Linked DNA regions of Homo sapiens: region 2 is linked to region 1. Evidence: fine-mapped expression QTL. A gene starts in region 1. The other region holds a variant in brackets. All regions are shown on one strand. Distances are between the middles of the regions.

Region 1 (4,000 bases):
ATAAAAAATATATTTAAACCATTTGTAGTAGAAGGCTTTAAATTCTAGGCTGAAAAATTTGGTTATTTTGTGGCCAATAGTAAATAATTGGAGATAGATGAACAGGGTAGTCACATAGACATGCAACCAACGGAAGGGAAGAAGGCTTGAAGATTGTCTTCTCCAAATTCCTCATTTTACTGATGAGGATACTGAAGCCTGTAGAAGTAAAGGAACGAGCTCAAAGCCCCATTAAACTCATATTAGTTTTACTACATATTTCTGGGCTTTAGATATCGTAGTTGGTATTCTGCTTAAATATTTTTAAGTAACTCAATTATAATTGTAGGGGAGAGGGGAGCTTACATTTTGAATGGTCCTCAAATAGAAACATAAATTTTAACTTTCCATCTCACCCGTGAGGCTTTTTGCCAAACTGAGAAACTGATTCACTGCTCTTCCTCTAAATTTGCTTCATCCATTCGGAGCACATTATAATAAAAAGAACCTGCTTTCAGACTTCTGGTGCCAAAACATTTCAGGAAAAAAAGAAATCAAAGATGAGCTTTCACCTCTTTACAAAATTGCATCACTGCTGCTTTATTCTTTCATCTTTATTGCAAATATTTAAACAAAAAACAAATGTCACCAGCTAAAGATAGTGAGGAATTTATTGTGGAGACAAACAAGGCTCTAGATATGTCAAAACTGGTGAGCTGACTCACCTTTATTAGGTGTGAACGGAAGCCCAAGCTTTACAGTGGTTACTATACATGAAATTAAATGAGATATCTTTCTTCTATAATCAGACCTTTCTGTAAGTGCTTTCTCTGCAGCCTTTTGTTTTTAAATGCCTGTGTACTAAAATTGTCCTTCAAATGTATCTCTTTGAAAGAATGAATAAATCGAGGGAATATACTAAAGCAAGAAAAGACATAATAGAGGTGAAGCATAGAAAGTTGATTGTTTTAACTGTTTTTTTTTTCACTGTTTGTAAATCTCCCAATGCTATAGGGCACAATCAATTAAAATAATTAATTTTTCAAAACCCTGAATTTATTTGACCGAGGCTAATTTCACTGGAATGTATGTCGTGTATCTGCATATCGTCCAATTTCTAAAATACTAAAACATTTTATCAATGAAATAAATGAATTAAATCGCCACCTATGAAAGTACCTGGCACACTACAAATCTCAATAGTCAAATTCTTTGACTCCTTGAAATCTCAAACAGAGCTACCGCCTCTTTATTTACTCTACAATTTACTTCTGAAGAAAACATTGAGTAATTATCCTATTCCAGCCATCAAAGTATGGGAAGAACAGAAAGAGTCAGCAGCGGTAAGCGGTATGGGTGTTTAAGAAACTAGCCACGGACCAGCAGAGCCTGCGAATGCGCGGCGATGTGACGACAAGGTTGTTGATGCCACAGCCTGTGAGGGACAGCAGGCAAGATGCCAAACGGAGGGACCCGCGTCTCTAAGGGCCGCCGGCTGAGCTGGGGCTGATCTCCCTTCCGCCTCCCGGGAACCCCAGTCCTCGCCAGCGTCGTCAGGATTCCTTGCCCTAATTATCCCGGGAGGAAGACGCGCCTTTCCCGGAGACCGCTAGGCAACACTCACCAAGGCAGCCTCCAGATTACTTCCCTCCGTGGGTGTGTGACTTCGTCGAAGCAACTCACACTTACAGTAGATTCTCACTGGCGAGGCTGCGAGCAGCAGAGGGCGGGGGAGCTGGGAAGAGGAGGAGGGAAGGAGGGTGGGAGGCGCTGAGCTGGGAGGCAGAGGAGACGCCGGAGCTCCAGACACAGCAGGAGCGCGCCTTGGCGGTGCAGTTTCAACCTCGACTTCGCAGCCGCGCACACACCGCCTGCTCCCCGAGCAGCGGGAACCGCAGCAGCTCCTGGGCCGCCGCAGCGCAGCTCCGCGCTCCTACCGGCCGGCAGCCGTCAGTCCCTCCCCTCTTCAGCACTCAGCCCGCAGCTATTTCCTTCTGCCAGTCTCTTTGAACTCTGGATCTTTGCTTTTGCTCGCTGCTCTCCTGTTTTTCATTCTCCACATTTTCTCAAGTCCTCTTTCTTTATCCTTAGCCACCCTGCTTTTTTCCTCCTTTTTTAAAAAATCGGAGATTTCGTCTTAAAATGATTTGCCTTCCTTACCTTCGTCCATTTCAACACTGAAGGCTGCAAAGAACCTTCACCTTTCCCCTAGTGGTATTTAAAAATTCTCAATCCGTAAAAAGTCTTTTTGAAAGGCAAAGGAACAGGACCCAGGACCCTCTCGACACCCTTGATCCGAGTCCAGATCTGCACTAGCAACCAGAACTAATATTTCATTTAACCCCACCAAAGGGGGAGGCGAGAGGAGCCAGAAGCAAACTTCAGCTGTCTCAGCCGGATCCGTGGTTCCTACATTTGGAGGAGCCGCGTGCCAGAAGGCGTAGGACCCCAAGGGGGGACAAGGAGGACTCCCGAGTCTCCCTTCGCCGCTCTGCGAGGCCGAAGCGGTGGACTGAGCCGCTCGGGACAGCGGCACCGGAGGAGGCTCGGAGAAGATGCGGGGCTCGGGGCCCCGGGGTGCGGGACGCCGGCGGCCCCCAAGCGGCGGCGGCGACACCCCCATCACCCCAGCGTCCCTGGCCGGCTGCTACTCTGCACCTCGACGGGCTCCCCTCTGGACGTGCCTTCTCCTGTGCGCCGCACTCCGGACCCTCCTGGCCAGCCCCAGCAACGAAGGTAGGGAGATGGGGGTGGGGACCGTGGCGACCTGGGGCGGAGGGGCTAGGCGGGGCCTGGGAGTTCAGGTCTCAGCGCGCTGGACGCTGCTGCTGCAGACTAAATCGCAGTCTCATCTCAAATTGGTATTTGTCGTCCCCTTCCACTGGCCTTTTCGCTCCCCTCTGCGGTTTTTGGTTGCATTGTTTGACGTTAGCTGCGGAGTGCTGGGCAAGGAACATGCGTGTGGACAGAGGCTGGTTGGGGGGCTGGGAAGGTGGAAAACCTTGGGGGAAAGGAGGTCGAGGCCTCCTTTGGGGAATGGAGGCCCGTTCCAGGGGGATGGGTGCGGCTGGGCCTCACTTAAGGCGCGTGGGGAAGTGACATTTCGGGCTTGAAGGAGTGGGAACTGTTGGAAGCTCAGTGACAAGGATCTCTGGAGCAGTGGGGCTTTTAGAAACCGTTATTTGAGGCCAGTGATGGGAAACGTTGTGGGGGTGGCTGGATGCTTTTATTTTTGGGGAAAGTGCCTGCTGGGAGCTGTTATTTAGGGCATCACCAGCTGCTATTCTGGGGTGGGTGGCAGGAGCTTTTATTTCTCGTGGGAGGGGTATAGCGAAGGACAGAAGGCGCCCCACACAGTTGGGTGCCCTTCTTCTTGGGGGAGTTCATTGTCACACTCAAGCCAAGGTGGAAGAAGGCGAGAAGGTGGGATGCCGCGGCAGGAGGGGTGAGGGGGAGTGTCGCTGCTAGGAAGTTGCCGCTAAAACCCACCTGGGCATGTCTTAAAGACGGAAAAGACCTGCTCTGGCCAGCACCTGATCCAGGAGTACCCAGTCCCCCTCCCTACCCCCAATCCTGTGCTCCAGACCCAGAATACTGTCCCTGCCTTTTTCTGGGAGAGTAGAGCTGGCGCGGGAGCAACACCTGTGTCGCTCTTCGTGCTCCCGGAACAGTGCTCAGCCCCTCTGTCCGCCTGCCTCTTGGACCTGAGACCTCTGCCTTTGGGTCCCCTCCAGCAGCGCTTGCTCCTCTCCCACACCCGGACTGAGCTCGGGTCTCAGCCCAAGGGCGCATTACTCGCGGAGGGGCGGGAACAGTATCTCAGATCCAGATCTGTCAGCTCCACCATGAAAACATAGAAAAACCTACCCACTTTGGCTAGAATGGTGAGGTTTCGGTTTGGGGCTGTGGATGCGACGCGTGAGGCTCAAAACCTTGCAGAAATTCCTTCCACTCCTGGGCACGGGACACTAGACCGGAAAGATGAAGCAGCAGTGGTGGAGTCGTGTGTGTCCTCGTGACT
Region 2 (4,000 bases), 110 kb after region 1:
TAAGTAATTTTGACAATCTCCTAATGTAATATTTAAATTTCTAGCAATTAGGACCCCAGTAATTACCTAAACTTTAATAGGAGCTATCATTTAGAAATATTTGTTGATATGGTTGTAGTATTTTAGTCAAAGCATCTTTTGGGTTAAGAACTCCTATGGGTACTTTGATTTAGAAACTAATGTTGGTGTCTATGTGGTATTCCTGGGAGCACCTTCAATTAATATGCAAGAAAAATGATTATCTTGAGTTATTTGTGATACAGAAATACAGGGTGAAATATGTATGCACAAGTAAAATCAGGCCTCAAAGAAATCATTTTTTGTTTGTTTGTTTAAAACTGTGTGAAGCATAGCAAAGAGTAAGTTGGCTGAACAACAGATGATAATTTTGTTCAACACTTAGCACCAAATCCTTTGATAAAGGATACTTGGCAAAAAATAGTTTGAGAGGAAAATTTCTAGTATTTGTGGAATATGTTATAGTACTTGTTTTGATTTATTAGCCTTTGATATTTTTTAAACAGAGGGAAGATTTCTGAACACATACTATTGATGTCATTTAGCTCCCACAACTTTGCATATAAAAATCTCTTTCATTACTCATCAGACTTTTCAATAGGACAGAAATGTGAAAAATAGCTTTATTTTCCTCCAGTTAGAAATTAACAATGTTTTCATGTGCTAATTTCCAAATATTTTCATCAAAAGAGTGCTTGCTTCGAGTTTTTTAATTTTCACACTGATTTAGAACAGGATATGTGGATTTGGTACTTTCTGCTACACATGATTTATGCTGATTCTTCTGTCTCTTCCCATTAGAGTAATATCTGGAGAATTTTGCCAATAAATCTGCCAACTAAGTATTTAATTTTTAAAGTTCTAACTCCACTCTACTTCCTAAAATCTAACCATTATGTAATTTCTTGTTACCTGCTCTTTTAGACAAATAATTATACTACTCCATATAATTATGTTAGAATCAGAAGCTACTTGTGTGCTGTGATTGAAGGATGCTGAAATATTTTTGCTTCTCTAAATAATTTCGAATGCTTTACTTCTTGAATCTTTGAGTGAAGGAACTGAAGACTTCTCTTAAAATGTAAATATTATCTAATAAGTGATCAGTTTTGTTTTCATCAGCCATCAACGCCTTAGCAGCACCTGAGAAATAAAATTCAGCAACTTTTGAACAAGGGACAGGTCTGCCAAATGGGGATCTAAAGTAAGTATCAGCCAAATGGCTCCTCAGAACTATGTATGGCTAAAACAATAGGAACAGTGGGAGGGTGAAAATAGTGAGAAAAAAAAAGAATTTATATCTACTTGATCTACTTGAAAGTATATTTTATCATGATCACAAGGTTTTAACTAAAGCAAAGCTTTTACATATAGTATATTTATTTTATCCTTATTTTATTTATTTATTTATTTAAGAGACTGGGTCTTGCTCTGTCACCCAGTCTGGAGTACAGTGGCGTAATCAAAGCCCATTGCAGCCTTGAACTCCTGGTTTCTAGCAATCCTCCCGCCTCA[G/A]TTTACCAATTACCATGTATACAATTACAACTATAGGCATGTACCACCACACCTGGCTAATTTTTTTAAATGTTATATTTAATTAATCAGCATCTTCAGTGTCTTGAAGACTTTTGAGATTTTCTTAAAAACAGAATATTTCAAAAAAGTGAGAAGAAGCTCTATACAATAATCTTGCCTTTTGAGAATTGTAACGTAATAGAAAAAGTCACTAACTTTCAGAATGTCAAGAATGTCTTGGTATGCGTCTTCTCTGTGACCCCCTTGCATAATGAACCATATGTCTTCCACATGCATGGATATACAGTTGCAAACATTCTCTTATGAATTTTTATATGAACTGCTTCTGAAAACAACTTCAACTATCTAAAATTTTTATTTTTCTTATGTCAATTTAAAATTTAGTTTCAAGAAGAGCCAAATGCATCTTTTTTCCCCTAAAACATGAGGGGGTTTAAGCTTACCTAAAGGTCTGCAAATATTTATGGTCATTTTGGAGAACCCTAAACGTCTCCAAAATGTGCAAAAGAAACAATTGAGAAGCATGGCCTTAAAAGTTAAAAATCTAAACTTTGGTTACTTAGTGTCAATAAAATTTTGTACAAAAATATCCCTCAGTAGTGGGGGAAATTTATAACTGATTCATATTAATTTAATTATGGATCTTCAAGTTTACTTGGATTGCGGTTGAGAAATGCCACCCGATTGTGTCTGTAGCATAAATAACATGCCTAGCAAGCCAAATTCTTTCAGAACATGATGGCCAGTGACCTTCAATCTTGACTCAAAATCCAAAATAATCAGAAGAATCAAGAGCTCTGTGATATTCAGTTGAAGGTAGCTGACTTTCTGATAATCAGGGTTATCTAGATTGCAGACATTTATCAGGTTAGTTCCAAATATTTTCAGATTTGGATGATCACTAGAAATGTCTCAGTGTATAATATTAGACCTCAATGCGAGTCTAGACAAATTCTTCTGTATTGAGAGCTGCAAAGAAATTTTTATAGGCACTTATGTTTATATTCAATTTTCTGGTATATCAATCTTACTTAAAAATTATTTCCTAGAATGGTTTCCCCTTCTGCAACCTCTTGTGGTTCATTCCACCCTATGGTTTCCAAGAAATATACCACAGATCAATATATGTATTTGGCTTTTAGTATAATGGAGGTGCATGGACTTGGTGATGAGTCCAGGCATTGAAAGATTTAAATCAATACAATGTGTCTTAATTTCTGGGGCTTAATGTTCCTGTTACTCTCACTTTCTGCTTTTACTCAATCCTGCATTTATGTACTTGCAAGAAATTAGGAAGTGAACATGTGATCAATGGACCACTGTGAACAGCCTAAATCTAGAAACACAGCTGCCAGCTAAGCTGTTATGCCTCAGCACATTGCACTCAGTCTACTCCCTGCCTATGAATGATGCCCGTGCTTATGAATGATGGATCTGAACAGAGGGACAATGAGAGACTACCCTGGATACCCTATATGCCTATGACTGTGAATAACATCAGTATTTTGTACTTGCTTCTGGCAGATTGCGTAATAAAGTGATTGGCATTCTAGTGATGCTGCTGTCATGAGTATAGACATTTGATAGGTCTTCCCATTCTTAGATAAATAATATCTTACAAAGCTCATTTATTTTTAAGAACAAGGGGACTGAATAGTTTTTTTTTTAATGTTTGTGTTTTTTGTCCCTTAAAAATGTTACAGTTGGTACGGAGGAAATTTTTTTTCCATCATGTCAAACCTTTCTAGCCTATCGGGGATAGAAAAAGTATGAATTCCTATACTTAATTGGTACCGATAAATGCCTTGTACTTACTAATGGAAGTGATTTAAAGTTATGTTTTACTCAATATGAGATTTTTATTCTAGACAAGAGTTTATGAATTAGTGATTTAAAGACTCAACATGGATGGACAGAGGATCCTCAAAAAGTTACTTGAGCATTCAAGTAACATGGAGTCATTTAACAAAAACAAAATCACTGCATTTTACTTAGAAATAATTTTTCAAAGGACTGAAAGCATAAAATCTATATTCTATATTATTTTGTTTATCCTCAGAATATTATTTGAGTCATTTAACAGGCAGGAATTATGTCTAGAATACTTATGTGAACATAAACATTCAGGGTTAAGCTAGGGACTTTTGTATTACCTTTGTCATTTCTCAACTCCAGTGACTTAAAATGCAACTTTCAACTTAGAGATGGACAAAGAAAACTGACAGTGAGTAGAAATAAAAAGAAATGGCATTGGCTTCCCCTATCTCTCCTAGAGTGGGATGGGCAAATGAAATATAAGGATAAGCGTGTTTATCCTAACAATGATAAACATTTCCATGTAATGTATTCATTATTCATGTCATCAGGAGAAGATGTCATATTTCTCAGAATAAAATTATTTGAAAAGATCTTCAGAACAATACAGAGAAGGAAAAAATATCCGTTT

Which allele goes with the higher level. Positions count from the first base shown, and alleles are read on the strand shown. Sizes are in standard deviations (SD) of each study's normalised expression.
For the expression in sigmoid colon of the gene that starts at base 1,788 in region 1, G is the low allele of the variant in region 2 and A is the other (small effect, 0.27 SD a copy in GTEx).

What was found. PIP is the estimated chance that this variant, and not a neighbour inherited with it, causes the effect. A credible set is the group of variants that fine-mapping cannot tell apart.
Region 2: its variant is the best candidate, but not a certain one, in a credible set for the expression of EPHA5 in sigmoid colon (GTEx, PIP 0.71).

Annotation. Positions count from the first base shown.
Region 1 is chr4:65,668,277-65,672,276 of GRCh38, reverse strand. EPHA5 (EPH receptor A5) reads left to right here and starts at 1,788. Exons shown (of 17, transcript NM_001281766.3): 1 at 1,788-2,715. The coding sequence starts at 2,535. EPHA5-AS1 (EPHA5 antisense RNA 1) reads right to left here and starts at 2,316. Exons shown (of 4, transcript NR_034138.1): 1 at 1,604-2,316; 2 at 396-501. RefSeq lists an enhancer at 3,639-4,000.
Region 2 is chr4:65,560,410-65,564,409 of GRCh38, reverse strand. The region is part of intron 3 of EPHA5 (EPH receptor A5); the gene reads left to right. Among named protein-coding and RNA genes, the nearest start is that of EPHA5-AS1, 110 kb to the left of the region's middle. The variant G/A (reference allele first, on the strand shown) is at 1,534.